3 linked regions of the Homo sapiens genome follow. The protein of the gene in region 2 interacts with the protein of the main gene of each other region in a pairwise test. Each region holds a gene or a part of one and is shown on either strand. Other genes may lie near its edges.

Evidence for each region.
Region 1: the proteins of NADK (region 2) and FAM124B interact in binary tests that used the Homo sapiens proteins (3 or more experiments, as listed by UniProt).
Region 3: the proteins of NADK (region 2) and CRY2 interact in binary tests that used the Homo sapiens proteins (3 or more experiments, as listed by UniProt).

What each region holds. Positions count from the first base shown.
Region 1 is NC_000002.12:224,378,197-224,385,130, reverse strand, and holds the end of FAM124B (protein FAM124B), read left to right. Parts: intron 1-4,922; coding exon 4,923-5,558; 3' UTR 5,559-6,433; downstream 6,434-6,934.
Region 2 is NC_000001.11:1,775,462-1,783,404, reverse strand, and holds the start of NADK (NAD kinase), read left to right. Parts: upstream 1-4,934; 5' UTR 4,935-5,116; intron 5,117-7,943.
Region 3 is NC_000011.10:45,850,452-45,857,475, forward strand, and holds part of CRY2 (cryptochrome-2), read left to right. Parts: intron 1-5,530; coding exon 5,531-5,639; intron 5,640-7,024. UniProt on the Homo sapiens protein: Transcriptional repressor which forms a core component of the circadian clock.

The DNA.
Region 1 (6,934 bases), on a different chromosome or scaffold from region 2:
AGATTTTATCTTGTCAGTGGCATGGGTAGAGAAAATAAGGGGAGGTTTGTAGAAAAACATAACTACACAAATTTTATATACAGGTTTGACAGTGAAGGGGAGGACAGAGAAACCTGGAGGGAAAGAGAGGGTGGAAAGAATGTGTTTTTCAAGACACGAGACTTGAACAAGTTTAATTGCTGTTGGAAAGGAATAGGCAGAGAGAGAGAAAGAGAAGGAGAGGGAGAGAGATTAAACATCCAAGATAAGAAAGTGGGAAAAATGAATAATTGATAGGTCAGGGTCACCAAGAAGGCGGGAGGTGATGGGAGTCTTGGCCCAGGGACCGGTCACTTTCACCTAGAGAGAATGGTGAAGCTGCAGGTAAGTTTCGCGGTAGCAGTGAGAGTGTTGCTAACTGGTGACAGCATCTGCTTCCTTGATAATCTGGATGGTGAGACCACCTGATGAGAGAGAGTGGGGGCGATGGTGCTGCTGAAGATTTCAGGACAGTTTTGAAGGTTTGAACAGCTGCTGGGTGAATGGAGAGAGGTGACTAAGGAAGCAGGCAGACTGGCGGGTAGCCTGGGAGAGGCCGGAAACCACGCCATCATGGGGCACCCATTTCACAGACCGATGTGTTTCTGTGGCATCCTGAACACATGTTCAGAAAATGTGGGCAGGTAGATGGATGAAAGGTGGGGAGATTTTGTGGGAGTCTGTGACAGAATGGGAATAGTGAGGGGAGTTGGAGGTATTGGTGAAGAAATGGTTGAAGTGATAGTCTTTGGACTCAAATTGACTCTGAAAGGCAGTGTGGATGGGAGGGGCTGACAGGGAGAAGCTGGGGATTGGGAGTGTTGATGTTGAAGAGCAGATGTGATGGGGAATTGAGTGCCGGAGCCCATGGCCTCAGAATGCCTGGCTTAAATAGAATCTTTCAAAGATGGGACATTTGCAGGTGGAGAAGGCCCAGTGGAGGGGCTGTGGGACTGGGTGACAGAGGGGAGTGGAGGGGTGAGCTGGGCTGGCCCAGGAGGGCGCTTCCTGGCTGCCCTGAGATGTCTCGGCACTGGTTGGGGCTTCAGGACCAATTTCATTATGATCTGACATTGATTTAGATGGCAAGGGGCGATTACTCAGGCTTCTCTCTGTGTTCACAGTTGCTAGAGAATGAAATACAAGCCCCAGAGTCAAAGTTATTGATTTCTTTCTCCAGATTGGATAATCTAATATCAACCCTGAACCATTTCTCAGTATGGAAATATCCATGCCAGTTTCCATTTCTAGAAGAAAAAGATGTCATTGGGTCAATTAAAAAGGTACATTATGATACAAGGGTACAGTGTCAAATGATTCTCCAAGAGGCAATGATGGCAGTTGGCCCTTTGAAGGACTAAGGGAGTTTGTTCTCCAGGGGAAGGGAAACCCCAGCTGACATTTCGGAGATAGTATTTTTTCCTCCTGATTTTGAAAGGATAAGCAAATAGTCTTCATTGGAAAGTGAGAATTTGGGGGTGATTTGAGGTTGGGATAGGGAGAAGGCTTTACTTTTTATTTTATACATTTGTACAATGAAATTATTTTTATGGTGATAAATTACTACTTTTATAGTAAGACTTTTTTAAAAAAACAAACAGATGAAAAGGAAAGAAAGGAAAGGAAGGGCAGGAGGAAGGAAGGAGAGAAGGAAGAAAGGAGGGGAGGGAGGGCGGAGCTGTGGAATTAGAGCAAAGGGAAATGTAGAGAGAGATAGCAAAATGAAATTAGGCAAAGAATTTTTCAGAAATATGGAGGAGGAGGTCGGGTGTATGTGATAAGAAACAGACTCACAACGACCGCAAGTTAACTGACTACTCGAAGCCTAGCTTTTCTGGGTCCATGGCAGTAGTTCCGAAACTTCGCTGCACATTAGAATTACTGGGGGAGATTTATCAGCTCTGACAGCCAGGTGTACTCTGACCTGATGAAATCAGGAGGTCATGGGCTGGGAGCAGGCATCATTGTTTTTTAATGATCCCAGGATGTTCCCTTGTGCAGCAAAGTTTGGGAACAGAAATTTCTCCTATGGGTTTGCATAAGGACAGGTCCTTCGGTGCAGTGGGCATCCCTTCAACAGTGTCGCCCCTAGAGAGAGTATCTGATGCTGGTGGAAGCTCTCTTCAACACACTCTGGGGCACTGCACTCAGCTGTGGTTCAGTGCAAGCACATCTGCGATAGGGGTTTCAGGTGTGTGTGGCTCTAATGAACTGGCTTGGCTCAGGGGTAGAATTTAGATATTCTAGAATAGTGGTTTTCAAGCTGGTTCTGTGAAGCCCTGGGGAACTAGAGAGGGGGTCCCGTAGGCAGAGGCTACCCTCTGTACGTCAACCAGGGCTGCGCTAATTAGATTGCTTCATATTTTGGGCTTCCAGGTAAGAAATTGTTTGGAAAAAAACTTCTTAAGATAGAGAGATGGCTCACTCCTGTCATCCAGCATTTTGGGAGGCCAAGGTGGATGGATCACCTTAGGTTGGGAGTTTGAGACCAGCCTGACCAATATGGAGAAACCTCATCTCTACTAAAAATACAAAATTAGCTGGGCGTGGTGGTGCATGCCTGTAACCCTAGCTACTAGGGAGGCTGAGGCAGGAGAATCACTTGAACCTGGCAGGTGGAGGTTGCAGTGAGCTGAGATTGCGCCATTGCACTCCAGATTGGGCAACAAGAGCAAAACTCCATCTCAAAAAAAAAAAAAAAAAAAAAGACAGGGAATCATTGATCTAGAATAGGGCTTGGTCAACTGTGGCCTGAGAACTAAAAATAGTTTTCTATTTTTATATGGTTGGAAAAAAATTCATGACACATAAAAAATATGAGATTCAAATTTCAGTGTTCATACATAGAGTTTTACTGAACACAGCCATTCATTTATATATTGTCTATGGCTGCTCTGCAGCAGAGTTGGATAGTTGGGATAAAGACCATATGGCCGGCAAACCCTCAGATATTTACTGTCTGGCTCCTTGCCGAAAATATTTGCCAACTTCTATTCTAAAAGAATCAGTGGAAGTCCTTGTTTTTTTGTGTGTTTGTTTTTGCAGCTTGGTAATATGCACCTCACCATTTCTATCAGAAAATTGAGATGTACTCTGCGTCATCTATACAAACAAATATGCTCTGTGTGAGTGTGTGTGTGTGTGTATGAGAGAGAGAATTTACTGATTTCTAGACCTGTTTTCTCACTGTCCTCATTTCTGCCTTCTTGCCTTGTAAGATAAATATGTATCATTATTTTTTCTCCCTTGAAATAGACCTTATTTTTTACAGCAGTGGTAGGTTCACAGCAGAATTAAGCAGAAAGAACAGAGAGTTCCCATATACAACCTTCCCCCCGAAAAGAGCCTCCTTTCCTGTCAACATCCTTTATCAGAGTGGTACATGTGTTACAACTGATCAACCTACAACGACACATCACCATCACCCAAAGCCCATAGGGTACATTAGGGTTCATTCTTGGTGTCGTACATTCTGTGGGTTTGGACAAATGTATAAGGATGTGCATCCACCATTACAGTATCATGCAGAGTAGTTTTCACTGCCCTAAAGTCCTCCTGCTCCACTTAGTCATCCCTCCCTCCCCCCAACCCCTGGCAACCACTGATTTTTTTACTGTCTTCATAGTTTTGGTTTTTCCAAAGTGTCATATAGTTGGCATCATATAGTCTCTCTCTGTCACCCAGGCTGGAGTGCAGTGGTGCAGTCATAACTCAATTTAACCTCGAACTCCTGGGCTCGAGGGATCCTCCCTCTTCTGCCTTCTGAATAGCTGGGACTATATGTATGGACCACACGTCTGGCTGATGTTTTTATTTTTTGTAAAGATGGGGTCTTGCTAGTTGCCCAAGCTGGTCTTGAACTCCTGGCCTCAAGTAGTCCTCCCACCTCAGCTTCCCAAAGGGCTAGGATTACAGGCATGAGCCCAGATAGGCTTCTTTCAGTTAGTAGTATTTATTGCAAGTTCTTCCGTATCATTCTTCTTGATATTTGATTAAGGGCTGGGCCAGGTAGGGATGGATCCTGGATACAAATTTCCAAGGGCTGTTATCAAAATGGAAAAAATTGCCTTTTTCCAGAAATCTTCTTGGGAAGAGTGTTGTGCATGGAATAGGATGCAAGGCTCCCAAGGGTGGAAGTCTTAAAGGGGGGTCAGTGAACTCCATCCTGTGGAGGGAGAGTGCAGTCAACTGCAGGGTGAGGGTTTTGCTGAGTGGTGTCTGTAAGTTTGTAACCAGAGTGGAATTGCTAAGGATGAAAACACCTAAACTTCCATATAAGCCATGCCCCCTTTTTGTTTTCTCATGCAATACCAGGCCTCTAATCTAAATAAATGGTGCCCCAAGAATTTAAAGAATATTGCTGCCAAATTATTAGCCGTCTGGAGTGGTCACATGTCTTAGAATGGCCCAAGATATGTATTTTTATTAGCATGATCTAAAAGAAGGATCACCAGCTTTGGAAGATTGAATTCTTACTTCAATCCTTATCTTAACTTTAACCACATGGTTTGGTGGCTTTCTAAATTTCTTTTTTTACATGGTTGCTAATAAATATATCATTTACAACATCCAGTGAGGTCACTGAATGACATCTGTGAATGTCTGCATTGTTTGAACAACTTGCTCTACCAGAAGTGTGGTGTTGTCAATTGGCCATTTGATTCCCAAAGTCTTACCCTTGTCAAAAACTTAATTTAGGGAGTCCCAAAGAGAGGTATTTGGGGCTGGGTCTGATTAGATATCTCATAATTATATTGTACTTATCACTTCTATTCAATTCAACCAAATTTACTGAAAGTCTGCTATGGGCATGGCATGGCAGAGGGTGAATAAGGCATAGTCAGCTCTTGGCACTTAGTTAATGGAAATTATGTTTCATATGTTCCTCCTTTCCTTTCCTGTAGGTTCAGCTGAATCCAGAACTTGGTGTTAAGAATGGCATCTTGGGAGCTGGCATGCTTCCCCTGGGCTCCAGGCTGACTTCTGTCTCTGCAAAGAGGACCTCAGAACCCAGGAGCCAGAGGAACCAGGGCAAGAGGTCCCAGGGGCATTCTCTGGAGCTTCCTGAGCCCAGTGGGAGCCCCACATCAGACAGGTGTGCTGGCACTTCGTGGAAAAGCCCTGGCCGGTCATTCCAGGTCAGCAGCCCAGCTATGGGTGCCCACCTGCACCTGTCTTCTCATCACCTTGAATCCGGGGCCAGAATGAAGGTCCTCAACCGGGAAAACAGCTTTCAGAAGCTTGAGGCCGAGACGAATGTTGACACCGGCTTGACCATCATAAATTCTGAACCCAGGCAGACTTATTTTGGCGGATTTCCAAGGGATTTACAGACCAGCCAGCCACCATTCTGCTTGCCAGCCTCTTCCTTGGGGGTGGCTACCTCCAAAAACAACAGTGTCCTTAAGGAAAGAGTCTCTCCTTTGCCACTTGCTGGCCAAAGGGACCTTGGTACCAGGAAGACAATTTCAGAATGTCTCCTTCATCTGCAAGTTCAGGGTGAAGAAAAAGAAGAAGATGAAGAAGAATTCTTTATATAGCATAAAATAAATGTGGTTTTCTAAAACACAAGATCAGATAAAATGTTCTAGAAATGGAGTACTGACCCAGAATCAGCCTGTTAGTTGTTCATCTGAGGGGGGCTGAATGCTCCCCATGCACAATCTGTATTGATTTTATTTCAAATGTTCAAAGTCTAAAGGTGCTGGGAATGATTGTTTATTTGCCGTCACAGTCATAAGAGAACACAGCCAACACACAGGGAAAAAAACCGAATGCTTTTGTTCCGTGGAGATGCACTAACCCAGCTGGATGTGTTGAATCCAGCACCTATCAGGATAATTGCATTGTATGCAAATGAATCGGTATGTTATACAACACTAATTAGTGTCTGTAATTTGGTTTTAATTTTTACTTAGGTTGCATAGCTCATCCCCCTGGACAATATGGACTGCTATTTACTCTTGAATGCTTTTTAATTTTCATGTGACCTCTTTTGGTAACTAGGCCTTGTTCACATACCCTCCTTGTGATTTTGTCTTTAAAGTTGTTTGTATCTGGAATGAGTGAAAATGCAAAGTGTTTTGAAAATTATAAACAGTTAATTTTGTTTTCCTGTTTAATGAGCCAAAATACTGGAAGCCAGAAAATCAGGTTGAACATGAATGCTAGGCTCTAGGGCTTTCCTGCTCATCTGCTTCTCATTTGTTTCTGCACTATGTCAAAGAGGACAGTGGTTCTTGTTACAAACCAAAGAGGAACATTGAGCACAGTGGGAAAATTGGACTGGTTGATCTGGTCACTGGAGCAGGACTTGGGTTCTTCTGGCCAGATTTTGACTCCCAGATTCCTTTACAAAACGCACTCATTCATTCATTTATATATGTTCATTCAATAAACATTTTTTGAATACCTACATTTGAATAAGACATTGTGTATATGGTACATATACATTCTGGGGCCATGAAACCCAAAAAGTGTTTATGGTTTCACCACTCTGATAAATTCATTCTACCAACTTTTAAAAAGATACTGAATTCCAAATATATTCCTCCAAAAACTTTTTCCACAGTTGAGGCCCACACTGGCCACATAATGGTGTAATAAGCATTTGCAACCTGCAGATGGAGACTGGGCATATTATGAATTGCAATTATAATTGCAATGGACAAATTCTCGTTGCCCATATGCTGAATTTTTTGGATATGTCTGTACACACATGTTTAAAAATCCCGAGGCCTGTGTTTCAGTTCATTTATAAGGTTATTCAATTCCACGAACTTCACTCTCAGAACAGATGTTACATAAGAGTGTAAATGTTGATTTAGCTGGATCTTTTGGAGACTTGGAGACTTACTACACCTAACTGGAGACAGAGATGAGTTCAGTCCTAAAGTCAAATCTTGCAAAAGTGAGT
Region 2 (7,943 bases):
CCCCACTTTTCCCTGAAATAAATCAGTTCTTCATAGACATGCAAGTTCTTCACAAGCCCTAACCCTGCCAGCTGTCTTACAAAAACCCCACTTAAAATCACTAGAGAGTTGAACTTGTCTTGGAGGCGTCAAAAGAAAAAAAAAATTAAAAATTAAATGCAGAGAGTACCTGAGGCTCTTTCCTGGCTGGCAGTTCCTGGGAGGGAGGGGCTCCAGCAGCCGGGAGGCAGGGTGCCGGCCTGCAGTGGCCTATCTTGGTCCCTGCCCAGAGTAAATAAAGGCCGAGCATCTCAGCACGGCTGCCACACCCCCGACTCCACTTCCTCCCTTTGGGGATTCCTGTTGGCTTCTGTGTCCTAGCCTGGCACCCCGCAGACTGAGGGAGCTGGCATGTGGGACCTGGGACCCTCTGGTGCCCCTTCCCCTTGGCTTTGGCCTGGAAGAGCCAGAGCTGAGGGGGACCCCTCCCTGGGGCGGCCTGCCTGTCCCTTGGCGGGCATGGAGGCCACTGCCCCACTTTCTTAGCAAAACAGGAAATGAAAACGGGCGCCAACAACGTGCACTTGGACAGCGGCACTGACTAAGGCAGTGTGGAAAGAGGAGGATAATTCCACACTGGCTGAGTGAACTGCAATCATTTTCAAACTGTAGGCACAGAAATCTAGTTTGTAGATTGCATTAGCCTGGCCTATGCAGGAGCAGCGCCCTTTGTCGCCAGCAGCTCCGCGGTGTGGGGGCCCCTGGCGCGCTTCCTGTGTCCGGGTCACCTGGCTCCGCCCCGCTTGCGCGGGCGCACCTGTCGCAGGTGGACACAGGCAGTGGAGTGACCTGCAGCTCGCTCCGGCTGTGGGCTGTTCCTGCAGGGCCTCGGACCTCCTTTGACCAAGCGGCGCGGGGTCGCCCCTGTGCTCCATGTCCCAGGGATGGAGGTTCCCCACCTCAATTTTACTCTAGCACGTGGCACGCACGTCCACACTTGAGCAGGACAAGGTTTCCGTTCTGTCCCCTCCGTGTCACGCACCTAGCAGAGGCTGGCCCTCAGCAGGATGCGTGGGGAGGCGCGCTCTGCCCACGCGAAACGGGGACACTTCAGCGGCCTGGCGCGGCCCCCCGCTCCCCCCCGAGCCGGACCTGGGAGCCTGAGTGACTGGGGCCAATAGAAGGGCCGGCCGGGAACCGAGCGCTCCCGGGAAAGGCCGCCTCGGCCCCTCCCACTACTCTCTGGCCTCGCCCTGTCCCCTACCCCCACCCCCCAGCTCCCTTTCCTCGCTGGGTGACCTTGAGCAAGTTACTTGGCCTCTCTGTGCCTCTGGCCCCCGCGTGAAAAATGTGGACAATAAACGTACCAGGCTGTGGCCGGGCGCTGTGGCTCACGCCTGTAATCCCAGCACTTTGGGAGGCCGAGGTGGATGGATTACCTGAGATCAGGAGTTCAAGACCAGCCTGGCCAACATGATGAAACCCCGTCTCTGCTAAAAATACAAAAAATGAGCCGGGTTCAGTGGTGTGCGCCTGTAACTCCAGCTCTGGAGGCTGAGGCAGGAGAATGGCTTGAACCCGGGAGGCGGAGCTTGCAGTGAGCTGAGATCATGCCACTACACTCCAGCCTGAGCTACAGAGCGAGACTTCGTCTTATACTAGGCTGCTTGGTAAGGATCTTGTGAGGACACAGGGAGTCCCAGTCCTGCCAGGTGGTTACTGTTGATGATCCCCGCCCACTCTAGGCTCTCACCACTTCAGGGTCCTGGTCCTTGCTGCTGCCTCTGCCTGAGAGAGAAACACTTGTCCCTGGGTACCTTGGTCAAAACTGTACCCCAACCCCTGCCTGCCCCCACCAATTCTGCTTCTTGCCCGTCTGCCCCACTAGAAGGTGAACACCTGATGGACTTTGGTTTCCACTGTTGAATCCTCAGTATGCCCTGCACATGGCTGGCATCCTGGGAAAGAGGTTGCCCCTCGCCCCAAACCAGGCCAAACAGAAGACTGTCATGTGAGCAGATCCAGACACTGGCCCCTGCAGACGCCCCTATCCTGGCTTTCAGCCTGGGCAGGGCCTGTGCCGGGTGCTGGCTGGAGGCTGGATGAGATGACCAGATAGCCTGCCATACTGATGTCCTTCACTGGGAGCCTCAGTCCTTCCCAGTCATCCTTTCCCCAGGCTCCAGGCCACTTACCCTTGTGGGTTCTGGGCAGACTTCGTTCACCCAGTTTACTGGAGCCAGGCCACCTGAAGCCAACTTCCCTCTCTCCTCAGCCTCCCCAGGAGCAACCTGTACCCCAGTGCACCCCATCCTGCTCCATCCCTCATGGCCTCCGTTCCCCCTTCTCCCTCCACCCTCCCCATCCCTGCTGACCCCCAGAAGAGGATGGGTCCAGGTTTTGGGGGTTCTGAAGTAAACAACATGGGAGCCATCCTTAAAGAATACAAAAAACAATGCGAAATTATGTGAAGAGTCCACTGCCACCTTGAGCAATGGCAGCCCTGGGGCTGAGGAAGGTCAGGGCAGGGGATGCCACCCACTGCTGCCCCATCCCTGGGGCCTGGTCAGGCAGGAGGGGGCCTTTCCTGACCCCCAATCCCTTGAAGGCAGAGCCTCTTCCTGTGCACCATCTGGCAGAAGCCCCCATGATAGCCCTGGACCCTTCTGTTCCTGCTGCGGGAACATCTCTTCCCTTTGGTCTCAGCCCAAGCAAAGCTGCCTCTTGGACCATTCTGGGTGCCCTAAGGAGCCTTCCCAGCTTTGGTCTTAGTTATTGCTGGCCAGGCCTGGGGTGAGGTGTGGGTGTGAGATCTTGGCCCCTGAATCTTCAAGGTCATATCCGGGGCCTGCCCTGAGAAATTGCACAACCTGTCAGCTGAAGGAAACCACAGCCCTGGTTTTGTTTTCTCATCTCTGAAACAGGGAAGCTCTCCTGCAGGCAGTGCCCAGGCCCAGGGTAGACAAAGGGTTTTCATGCCACAGACGGGGCAGCTGCTGGAGCTCCCTACACAGCGGGACACGCGAAGGGCACCTGCTGTGTGACCTGGGGCCCACGACAGTCACTGGTTGCCTCTGCAGAAGCAGTTGACTGCCTCCACTCTAGAAGATTCTACTGAGGCCTGGCTCAGTGCCTGGCTTGTGGGTGCGCCATCTAGATCAAGCATTATTATGCTAATGATCATATGCAAAAACTCAGCTCACGCATTATTATGTTAATGATCTTATCCGCCCCCTCTCCCCCCGCCAAAGAAAAAGAACTGGGCAGCTCAAGGCCGCTTCTGTGGGTGTGGCTGGTGGTCACTTTGAAACAGTTGGGTTTGCAAAATAACCCCGGGAGAAGTTACAGAGCTTAAGAAATCCCCCAAGTTCTCATGATCCTTGCTTCCCTTTCCAGTCACCCTTGGTGCCCTGTACTTCACTGTGGTCCTGAACTGAAGAGCTGTGTTTTTCAGGAAGACTTGGCCAGGCCGTGTTCCGTGTCTCTGGATTCAAGTCCCAGGAGTCCTGACCAGAGAGCAGGTATGCGGGTGTGGGGAAGGGCTGCAGAGGACTCAGGTCCACACCGACCCTGGGCCAGGTGATCACACAGAAAGTATAGACAGGGACTGAACCTCAGAAAACAATGGCTGGGCCAGGTGCAGTGGCTTACGCCTATAATCCTAGTACTTTGGGAGGCCGAGGCGGGTGAAGTTTGAGACCCAGCCTGGGCAAAATGGTAAAACCTCATCTCTACACACACACACACACACACACACAAATATATATATATATGAATGAAGTAGTCGAGTGTGGCGGGACCTACTTGTAGTCCCAACTACTAGGGAAGCTGAAGTGGAAGGATCGCTTGCACCTGAGAGGTCAAGGCTGCAGTGAGCCGTGAGCCCGCCACTGGACTCCGGCCTGGGGGACGAATGAGACACTATCTCAGAAAAACAAAACAATGTCTGGCACCTGGGGGACCAGCAGGTTAGAGCAGCTGGTCGTGCATTGCCAGTTTACCTGACAGTGACTCGAGAGCTGAGAACTGGGTATAGGGCACATTATTGGGATATTTGAGGCCTGAAGGCGCTGATGAGCAGCCACCAGTTCAGCAAGTGCGGGCTGGGTGGGACCCGCAGTTCCAACAAACACTACAAAGTCCGCTCCTGTGGCTTTGGCCTCCTCCCCCAACTCCCCGAGTCCTCCAGCCTGTGGGGTGCGCAAAACACGGCTCCCTGGTCCCCCTAGAGGTGCCCCAGGCCACCGGGTCCTCCCTCCACTGCCAGCCTTGGGATCCCAAGCGTAGACCTCTGAGGACGTTCGTGGGCGTGCAAGGCGCACCTGGCCGCTAGAGGTGGGCGTGAGGCCGATCGCGGTTCCCCCAGGCGCAGGGCCGCCCTCCCAGCCCCGACGGACAGCCCCGAGGGAGCGCAGCGCTGCCGCAGCTGCTCTAAGTTTCGGTTCCCAAATCCGGCTCGGCCCACACCGTGTCACAGCCCGGTAATTAGGGAAGCGGCGGCGGGCGGGGCCAGCTCTCGCGGGGCACCTGCACTCCCCTGAGCCGGCCCACGTGGTCCGGGAGGTCCCGCCCGCGGTGGCGGTGAGTTGGGGGCGGGACGCCGGGCTGGGATCACAATGTCGGGGGCGCCTAGGCGTAGACGTGGCGGGCGGACCCGGGGGCGCCCTCCGGACGCGGCAGGTGAGTGGGGACGGGAGCCGGGGGCCGCCCTCCTCGGGGCGCCGACCCCCGCCTACCCGAGTCGCGGACGCCCGCCCCTGTCCCCGCTGCCCGCCTCCACTCCCTGGTCACTGCTCTCCACCGCGATTCGCCCCTCTTCCCCACCGCCCGCCTCTTTCCCGCCACGCCCGCCGCCTCCCGCCCGCGCGGGGTGTCCCGGCGCCGGTGGGACCCGGCAGACGCGCGGGACGCCCCACGTGCGCGGCAGCGCGCATGCGTGGCGGGTGCGCCTGCGCAGTGGGCGGGCGCGGCGCATTGCTGCTCGGCGGCGCCGGCGCCGGGGTCCGGGCGGCCATGGGGCAACAGGCGGCCAGGGCGCCAAGGGCCAGGTAGCGACGGCTGGCGGCGGCGCGGCGGCGGGGCCTGCGGGCTCGGTCCGGCATGTAGACGCCCCCGCAGGCGCCCGCGGCAGCGAACGGTGAGTGAGCAGACCCGGCCTGCCGTCCGCCTGGGGTCGCCCGCTGCCTGGGGTCATCGCTGCCCGCGAGCGCGCGGCCAGGCGGGGAGACACCAGGCCGGCCCTGCCCATCTGGCCTGCTGAGGAGGCCGTGGAAGTGCTGACGGGCCACCGCTCCGTCCCGAATGGGGCACCAGCACGGCCCAGGGCGAGGCTCGGCCTTGGGGACGGGTCTGAGGGAGGCCGCTGTCCGGCCTGGCTCTCCCGGGCGGGGAAGGTGGGGCCGTCCAGCCCGGACCGCGCTTGTCAGTCGCCTCTGCTTGGGCGGCCAGGTCCTCGGTGTCCGGCCTTCCGTGGGTGGTTTCAGCAAGCAGGAGGGGTCTTTGACTCGTGAAAGCTTAGAGGGGCCCAAACCTAGTGGGAAAGTATGAATAAAAGATTCTATACAGCAGTATTGGCATGGAATTCTCTAAAAACACATCTCTGATTTAGTGCCCAGTACTTGCCAGAAAATTCCAATAGTCTATGGTGATGTTCCTACAGGCGGCTGCCATCCAGTAGGTCAGATGTCAGCACCGGCCTTGAGCTCTAGGTCGTCGTTTTTTTTCTTAATTGTGGGAACAGGGCGTGCCCAGCTCCGAAGGCCTGGTGGAGTTTTCCTTCCCAGGCCAAGGACCACCCCCACCCTCCCATCCCTCCTCCCCAAGCAATGAGATTCCTTTTGGCTTCGATTCCGAGTAACAAGTTATTTTTCCTTTCTTGTTTTGGAACACACTAAGTTTTACATTCAAAAGTTCATTATTCTTGGCTCTTGATGGGAATACATTTCAAAACTCTTCTCTTCTTGTGTTCCATGTCTCTCTGACAGCCTTAGTTGGCCTGAAACTGACATGTTTGCCTTAATAAGTTTTTTTTTCCTCCTGATGTCATCTTGTCTAAGAAGCTAGTTACTTTAACACCTTGTTAGATAATTCCCTTCAAGTACTTATTCCCCTGAACATTGTCCTCTCAAGCCTCTGGAAATTTCCTGTCCCCTTGGAACTTCTCTGTAAGGCCTGTTTGCTCTCAGCAGTGACTTCACTGGGACTTTTGCAGCCACTTTATGGTGTTAGCACGCTGATTCCAAGCTACTTGAGGAATCACAGGTGCCACCGCAGTACCCAACAAAATAGCTTCATCATTTGGAGGTGTCCTCTCGAGATGTTTCTGTGTGTATATGTGTGTGTATGTTAGAAACAGGGCCTCACTCTGTCCTCCAGGCGTGTTTATGGTGGCATGATTATAGCTCACTGTAACCTCAAATTCCTGGGCTCAATTGATCCTCCCACCTCAGCCTCCTGAGTAGCTGGGATTACAGGCCTGCACCACCACACCTAGCTGATTTATAAAATTTTTTGTAGAGATAGAGTCTCACTGTGTTGTCCAGGCTAGTCTCAACCTCCTGGCCTCAAGAGATCCTCCTGCCTCCACTTCCCAAAGTGCTGATCTTACAGACGTAAGCCACTTTGACCAGTCTTTTTTTTTTTTTTTTTTTTTTAAGACAGAGTCTAGCTCTGTTGCCCAGGCTGGAGTGCAGTGGCACAATCTCGGCTCACTGCAACCTCCACCTCCCGGGTTCAAGTGATTTTCCTGCCTCAGCCTCCTGAGTAGCTGGGATTACAGGCGCCCACCACCACGCTCAGCTAATTTTTGTATTTTTAGTAGAGACGGGTTTCACTGTGTTGGCCAGGCTTGTCTCGAACTCCTGACCTCGTGATCAGCCCACCTTGGCCTCCCAAAGTGCTGGGATTACAGGTGTGAGCCACCACAGCTTGCCTCACTTGGACCAGTCTTTTTGTTTGTTTGTTTCATTTGAACTTGGAGGTGGGTTTATGTTGTTTCAGTTGGCAGCCTGCTGTTTGGTTCCAAAACAGCATTTTCTTCTTGAAACAACTGCTGTCAGCAGTTAGATTTCCAGGCTAGCACAAAAACCTGTTTGACTCATAAATCCTTGTAGTGAGGGTGTCCCAGAAAGTTGGCCAAGTCAAGAGCAGTTCTTGTGGAGTGGAGGCGGTGAACAAATAGGGGGAAAGTGGCGCTCGTGATGAAAACGGAAAACAATAGTTGATTTTATTGAGCTTCACGCTTGAGGAAATGTAGGTCTCACTTGGAAAATTAAGAGGCAGGTGGGTGTTTGCGGGACTCGACGGCCTTGCATCTGGATTACCTCCAGTCTGCAGGTGTGGTAGGATGACAGCAAGAGGGAGTGTTGAGCACACAAGCCCAGCACTTGGGGGGAGGCTGTGTCATGGCAGGAAGGTACAGGGCCTCCTCCAGCAGCTCCACTTTCTAGTCCGTATATACCTGTTGACAGTCACCGCCCAGCTTCAGCCGTTCTGGACAAGTGGGTGTCAGTAATGCTTTAGCTTGTAACCCCAGGATTTCATTTCTACTCTCTGTGCTGGTGGCTTATCATTTGCAATCTTTCCTGGCCCACAATTGCAAAGGTCCTAGCATTCATGCATGGGAATGGGGAAGTGAATAAAATGTGTGTGTGTGCTTCAGACAGATGGTGAAAAGTGTTCAGAGAAAAAGCGAAATTGAGGCAGATGGGATGTGAGGATGCCACGCACACTTTGTGCAACTGAAGAGGGAGGTGATGCCTGGCCTTCCCATTCAGAACTGCCCAGACCCCTGTTTTCTTCATCTGCCCCTAAGTAGGTGGAGCCACATCTAAAGAAAGCCCCCTTCAGACCTGTAATCTGCTTAGGTTTAATGAGGTCACAGGGTGAAGCCCTGTGGTCACATGGCTGTAGCACTTTCCAGAAAGTCTTTCTCAGTTTGTATACTGCCAGTGTGCATGCCAGCA
Region 3 (7,024 bases), on a different chromosome or scaffold from region 2:
AAGAGATGAAGTAACACAAACAGATTGAATATAATAACTGCTCCTGGGCCTGGAAACAGACACACTCCTACCACCTCCACCATTCTGCTTGCTTCCTGGATCAGTTGAAGGCAGAGCTGCATTCTCTTTTGTGCACAAAGTTGGGGATAGAGGGGAGGGCTGGAGCCAGCCATATCTTGACATGACTGTAGTATGTGTAATCGTCCCGTGGTTGTTTCTGGATTCCAAGAGTGGTCTAAGAGAATTGTGCTGCAGCATAATGTCCTAGCTCTGCAACTGCTTAAGTTGTCTCTGAGAAGCCTCCCTGGGAAGGGCAAGGGACCATCTGCAAGGAGGGGAGGACCCAAAATCTGTGACTCTGTTTCCCTCCTGCTCCTTCTACACTGACTCCCACACAATGTTTTTCTGCAGAGGAAATCAGATTAAAATAACTATGAATGGCACTAAGAGTAAAAACGGACAGAGAAATGCAACCAAGAAATACACATATTGATTAGCAAGAAGAAGCCTAGCATACTTCTTGCCCTGGTGATGGTGGGAAGTTTACGGGCTAATTGTAGCTATATGAGCCTCAGGACTTTTTTTTTTTTTTTCCAAGTGCTACTTGGCTAAGCCCTTTCACATTTTCCCCAGCCTCACCTTCCCCAGATTTGCTACATCTAGAAGGAGGTACTGCAGCAAGAAGATAAACTAAAGGAAGATGTGAGCAGTTCCTAGATTTTAAAATGACCTCTGTGGTTTTTCATTACCTTTCTCTCCCCACTGCAACTTGGATAGGTGTTAGCAACAGTTCCTCTTCCACTTTATTTAAATCATTTTGTCCCTGGCTCTGTGCTGCGCCTCTTTCAGGAGCTTCTGGGACAGAGGGAATTTGTAGAAATAAAATATGTTCCCTCTCAGCCCATTTCTCTTAGAATTGGTAAATGAGGTAAACTGGGAACTTCCCAGGATGCCCCATGAGAACAAGTGTGTCTCTCTTCCCAGATGCTGAGAGCTGAACACTGTTGGACTGTTGGGAAGTGGATTGAGAACGCTAGTCTACTGGCAGGGAAACAGGAGCTTCTCTGAGCTATTCACATTGGTACCTGAGAGAGGCACTTTACTGTTCTGCTGCCAAGGAAATGTTTCTGTTTGCCCAAAGGGGATAAAAACCTTCATCTTTCTCTTTGAAATTAGGAAAGAATAAATATATTTTTAAAATAATAAGAATTTAATATTTAAGTATTTCTAAATATCACTCAGATACTTAGAAATAAATCCCTGCCAGAGATTGTGAGTTTAGGTTATCCTTTTCCATGGGGCTTAAGCTCTCTTAATTACTTAGGAAAAATTAATTTCTATTAATATCCTATGTAGCCAATCTGTGCCAGCCAGTGGTATCATCATCGTTGTTAGATAACCTTGCCTTGAAGCAGAGGAACTTGGTCAAGGACAGCCTGGACCCAAAAGAATTCACTGTTATCCTCCCTCCCCCCATTAACAACAAATAAATAAAATATTCCTCAACACAGGATCAGCCATTCCTAGAGAAGGCCTTCCCTAAATATGAGTACTTAATCAAAGGATCTGCTTGTTTTATTCTAAAAGGCTAGCCTTGTAGAGTCCCTGAGTTATAGTGTCCTCTCTATATTTTTGGAAATCCCAGTCTGGTTTTCTCCAGTTCTGCCTGCCTCTGGCTCCAGAGCACTTACATAATAATGTAATTCAGTTGCACATGTTGTCTAATCCAAAGGGTAAGCTTTGCTCTCCCAGGACCATGTGCTCTGAATTTTGGCCATGTGAGCTCAGCTAAGAGCTGCCAAGGGTGAAGTGCCAGCCCCCAACACCACCATCTCCAATGCCCAGGCCAGTTTCCTTCAGAGTCCCCTCATTGGAGTAAAGAGAAATTGGAGTAAAGAGGAGGGTTCTAAGGGACCACAGAAGGCCCAAGGTTCTCTCTGGTGAAAGAATGCATATACCTGCCCACTGAGCCTTTGCCCAGTCGCAGCACTGCTCCAAATGTGAGGGACAGCTGTCACCTGGCAGGCCTCAAAGGTAGTACCCTAGTGGTGGCTTCTCATTCTCTGCATTCTCTGGCTGCCTGGAGTCTGGAGATACTGGGGACCCTCCTCACATCCCTGTCTATTGCCTCCGTGTGGTGGCTGTCCTGAGCCCTCCCTTCCCGGGTTGACTCGGGAGGGAAGTTGGAAGAAGCAGAGCATTTCTAGCAGGCCAAAGGGGAGGCAGAAATATGGATGCTCAAGAGAGAAAGTTTAGTACAAACAAACTAGAAGCAAAGAAAGGCAACTTGTAACAGAGACTAGAAGTAAAGTTCAGTTTTCTAGAGTAGTGCTTGTGAAACTTTAATATGCAAATGAATCACCAGGGGATCTTGCTAAAATACAGATTCTAATTTTGGAGGTCTGGGTTAGAGCCTGAGATTCTGCATTTCAACAGACTCCTGGGTGTTTCACAGCCAATGCTGCTGATTGTCAGACCACACTCAGAGGAGGAAAGATCTGGCAGCAGAGGTGTTGCTGGCCTTTGAGTTGGCCTGTGGTGCTCCCTAATGGCTGAGCCCAGGGCAGCACAGCCTCAGTGCTCTGTTTGTTGAGAGGCAGTGGCTGGCTAAAAACGAACATGTCAAGCCTGACAGATTGCCTAGGTTTGAATTCTGGCCACTTACTAGGTATATGATGTTGGGCAAGTTTCATAATCTCTCTATGCCTCAGTTCCCTCATCTATAAAATGGGAATAATAATATTACCTACTTGATTGGGCTGTTTGAGAATTAAATGAGGTAATGTATGTGAAACAAGTAGAATAGTGCCTGTCATTGTAAATGCTTATTAAATGTTAATCATTGCCATTATTATCATTATTTTTATTTAGTTGCTGGGTTCAGAGTTGGGCCTTCTACCAGCCTCACATCTCTGCTTCCTGCTATAAACATCTTTTGTGAAAGAAGAAAAGGGCTCTCATAGGATTAGCTGTACTTTAGAGATGCTACGAGGAATCTCTCCTTTTAGTAAATGAGGTCTAAAAATAAAGTTCTATAGAAGGCAGATTGCTACATGTTCTGGAACCTAGATTTCATGTGCATTCCAACCTTATTTATAGCTTCAAATCAAAGTCCTATGCAGCCTGGTGGACTGTGAAGGAAAAGACCCCCAAAGCGCATGGCAAGGACACTCCTGGGAGCTGCAGATGGAGGACCCTGTGTCCTGGGGTTATGAAATTTAAATCACTGCTCCTAGCCCTAGGCATTCTACCTGGCAGGGTCCAGGTTTCAGATGGCATGAGACCATTTGCATGGATTTCTCTTCTTTTCCTTCCAGAAGAGTGGTGAGGCTTGGGGGAGGCCAACACAAGTGACGCACTTGCAGCTCCCTGTTCCTTTTCTGGAGGTGACAATTTTTCAAAAACAGAAATTCACAGAGGTGGAGCTTTTGGTTTGCATAAAGCAGCATTCAACCTGTTTGTCTTCCATCCCAACCTCTCAGAGAGTCTTCCTCATGCTCTTTTGCAAACATGATGCTTTGAGCCGAGGCCAGGGCTCAGCCCATGCTAGAATGTGGGTCGGTGGCATTGGCCGTAGGAGTGTGTCAAGTTGTGTACGTCAGAGGCAGCAGTGGGGGCTGGTTCTAGTTGGCAGCCTGGGAATAGTCACTGCTTCTGTAAGCCTCCAGTAGTCAGGGAATGTGACTGTGATGTGCCATTTCTATTGTTGACAGAGAAAAATGCTGGGGATGGGTGGAGACCCAAGGGGTAGATAGCAGGTGCCTCAGAGGTATCTGTGACATATGCAGATTGACCTGTGGGTTCTTGAAGAAGAAGATAAGAATGCCAGTGGATTACCTGTAGTCACATTGCTATTAGAGAACAGGATTCCAAACTCCTGAGGGCCTGCAGAATCTCAGCCCCTGGAACAGAGTTGGTGTGCAACTAGAAATCTTTAGAAATGGGGCACAGAACCCTCACGGTGGCTCACGCCTGTAATCCCAGCACTTTGGATGGCTGAGGAGGGCGGATCACTTGAGGTCAGGAGTTCAAGACCAACCTGGCCAACATGGTGAAACCCCATCTCTACTAAAAATATTGTTTAAAAAATTAATTGGGTGTGGTGCACATACCTATAACCCCAGCTACTCGGAAAGCTGAGGCAGGAGAATCGCTTGAACCTGGGTTGGGGAGGTTGCAGTGAGCCGAGATTACGCCACTGCACTCCAGCCTGGGCGACAGAGCGAGACTCTGTCTCAAAAAGTAAATAAATAAATAAAAAAGGGCACAGAGAGGAAAATGTGGGTTTCAGAGTGACCACCCTAGGTTCCTGAATCCCCAGCTTTGTCACTTAACAGCTATGGTCTTAGACAAATTAATTCACCTCTGAGTGTCTCAGTTTCCTCATCTATAAAATAAGGATGGTACTATTTCCTTCAAAATAGTTGAGAGAATTAAATGCAGAAATGCACTTAAAAAGCATGACAGAACCAAAATCCCATTGATAACCTTGGTTGCCTCTGGGGAGTGAGGGAGGGGAAAACCCTTTCTACTATGTACCACTTTGTCACTGGAATTTTGAGCCACATGAATAGTTTATCTGGTTATAATGTTAATTTAATTTAAAAATAAAACGCTGAAGGCACTCAGCAAATGTTAATGTCCTTTCCCTTTCCCCTGGTGATCCAGGTCTCCTGCTGAAGTTCTTGCCTAGCTGCGGTCTTCCCCACCCCCACCCCCACAAAAATGTGAAGATAGCTATTGAGAAGTACCTTTTAAGGCCTTCTCCCTCTTGGGATGAGAACCTGATCACCAGAGCCCTGGAGAGGCCTGGAGAGTGAGCCACCTGCCAAACAAAGCTCTGGGAACTAGGGACCCATTGCAGGCTGTGAGGCTGTGGCAGCAGAAATACGCATGGCCCAGAGCATGCATGCAGAAAGTCAAGGAGTCTTTTCCACCAGAGTAAGGAGGATTTTCCCGGCTGTGGCAGTCTGGTCCTCTGCTAAGAGGACCTTAATGCTTCATACCACAGTATTGCACTGGCTTTTCAGATGGCTCCCACGTGAGTCTCACAACAACCTCATGCTGGGCAGATACTTATATCTAGCCCCAGAGACTGCGAGGGAGTAAGTGACTAGCCTCTGATCACACAGAAACACCACACTAGGAACAGCTCACATTTATCTCATGATGTCTGTGTGCCAGGCACAGTGCTAAATGTTTTTCACACATTATTCGATTTTCTTTTCTTAGCAATTTTATGAGATGGGTACTAACATCAGCTTCACATTACCGGCGAGAAAACAGGCAAAGAGGTTAGGTTATTGCCTAAAGTCACACAGCTAGTAAGTGGCAAGACCAGGGTTTGAAGCAGAGCAGCGCTGATCCACTACCACATCCCTCCTGGGCTGGAACCCAGGCCTCTCCAGCCCTAGTGATCATGAGGCTGCCTGTTGGGCATAAACAGCGAACCAGTTTCTCCCTGCTTTGTTAGGAAAGAGAGCCACTCTTCATGATGTTATCACTAACAAGGCCTGTGTGGACTCCACAGGTTCCTACTTCAGTCTCTGGAAGATTTGGACACAAGTTTAAGGAAACTGAACTCCCGCCTGTTTGTAGTCCGGGGACAGCCAGCCGACGTGTTCCCAAGGCTGTTCAAGGTAAGCGTGCAGAGCCCCAGAGAAGACAGTGAGATTCTGTCCCTGACGGTTTCCCCACAGCCTGAGTGATATGATATTCCGACTGAGGGAATGGAAACATCAGGGCTGGTCTGGCTGTTGCTGCTAGAGAAGTTGGGAGCAAAGGCAGCCAGTTAGCTTGCTCTTGGAATGGAAACTGTGTTAAGGAAAAAAATTCTGGGAAACCAGTGTCTTGTTGGAAAGCTCTCAGCTCAGTCCAGACATAGGATGTGGTAAGTCATTCCACTCTGGATGCCACTGGCTTCCTTCAATGTTTTCTTGGCTCAAGCCAGCCAGATTTATTAGGGTTCCTTCTAGGCCAAGACTTTGAGGTGGGGTTTCATGTCTAGCAAGGTACATTTCCCATCTTGCTTTGCTCTGCTTATTGGGAAAAGTCAGCCTTTTCTGCCGGGCGAGGTGGCTCACGCCTGTAATCCCAGCACTTTGGGAGGCCGAGGCAGGCGGATCACGAGGTCAGGAGATCCAGGCCATCCTGGCTAACATGGTGAAACCCCGTCTCTACTAAAAATACAAAAAATTAGCTGGGCATGTTGGCTGGCACCTGTAGTCCCAGCTACTCGAGAGGCTGAGGCAGGAGAATGGTGTGAACCCGGGAGGCGGAGCTTTCAGTGAGCCGAGATTGTGCCACTGCACTCCAGCCTGGGCAACAGAGCGAGACTCCGTCTCAAAAAAAAAAAAAAAAAGGTCAGCCTTTCTGAGGAAGCTTTCTTGTTTCCCATGGGGTAAATGATTGATAGAAATCTTCATTTTGGTGCCACATAGGTTTCTGTTTGCAGTAACGGGGCCAGTCCACTTTTCCCTCAATCCCTTTAAAAAGTATATTCTAAGGCCCACATAGAAGCACAGGAACTCATGGACAGAGGGCTGTGGGACAGACTGCCATCACCCTCAGCAGCACACAATGATTGTCATGCCCCTCCCCACCCTAACTCCGAGACAAAAGGAAAAGTCATGTCAAGGCAAACAGCTTAGTGAATACATCATCCTTCAATTCCCCTCCCCGTAACCCCACACATAATTGTGCATACATGTACAAATCACACAGTGCTAGTAATTGCCCACATTCATTGAGGGCTGCCTATGAGTCAAGCGCTGTTCCCAGTGCTTGTTTACATCAACTGAGTTCTTCCTCACAGCAGGCCTAAGAGGTGGCTACTGCTATCCCGATTTACAGGAGAGGAAACAGTCATTGGTTGTGAAGTTAATAAGTGACGATCTTGGATTCTGACTCTAGAGCTGTATCCTTACCCACCATACCATATAAATACATTTGCCTCCCTTCTCCCCTCGACATTGCCCTTTTTCTCCCCCAGCAACTCAGAGGCCAACCCACTTATATCCCAGAG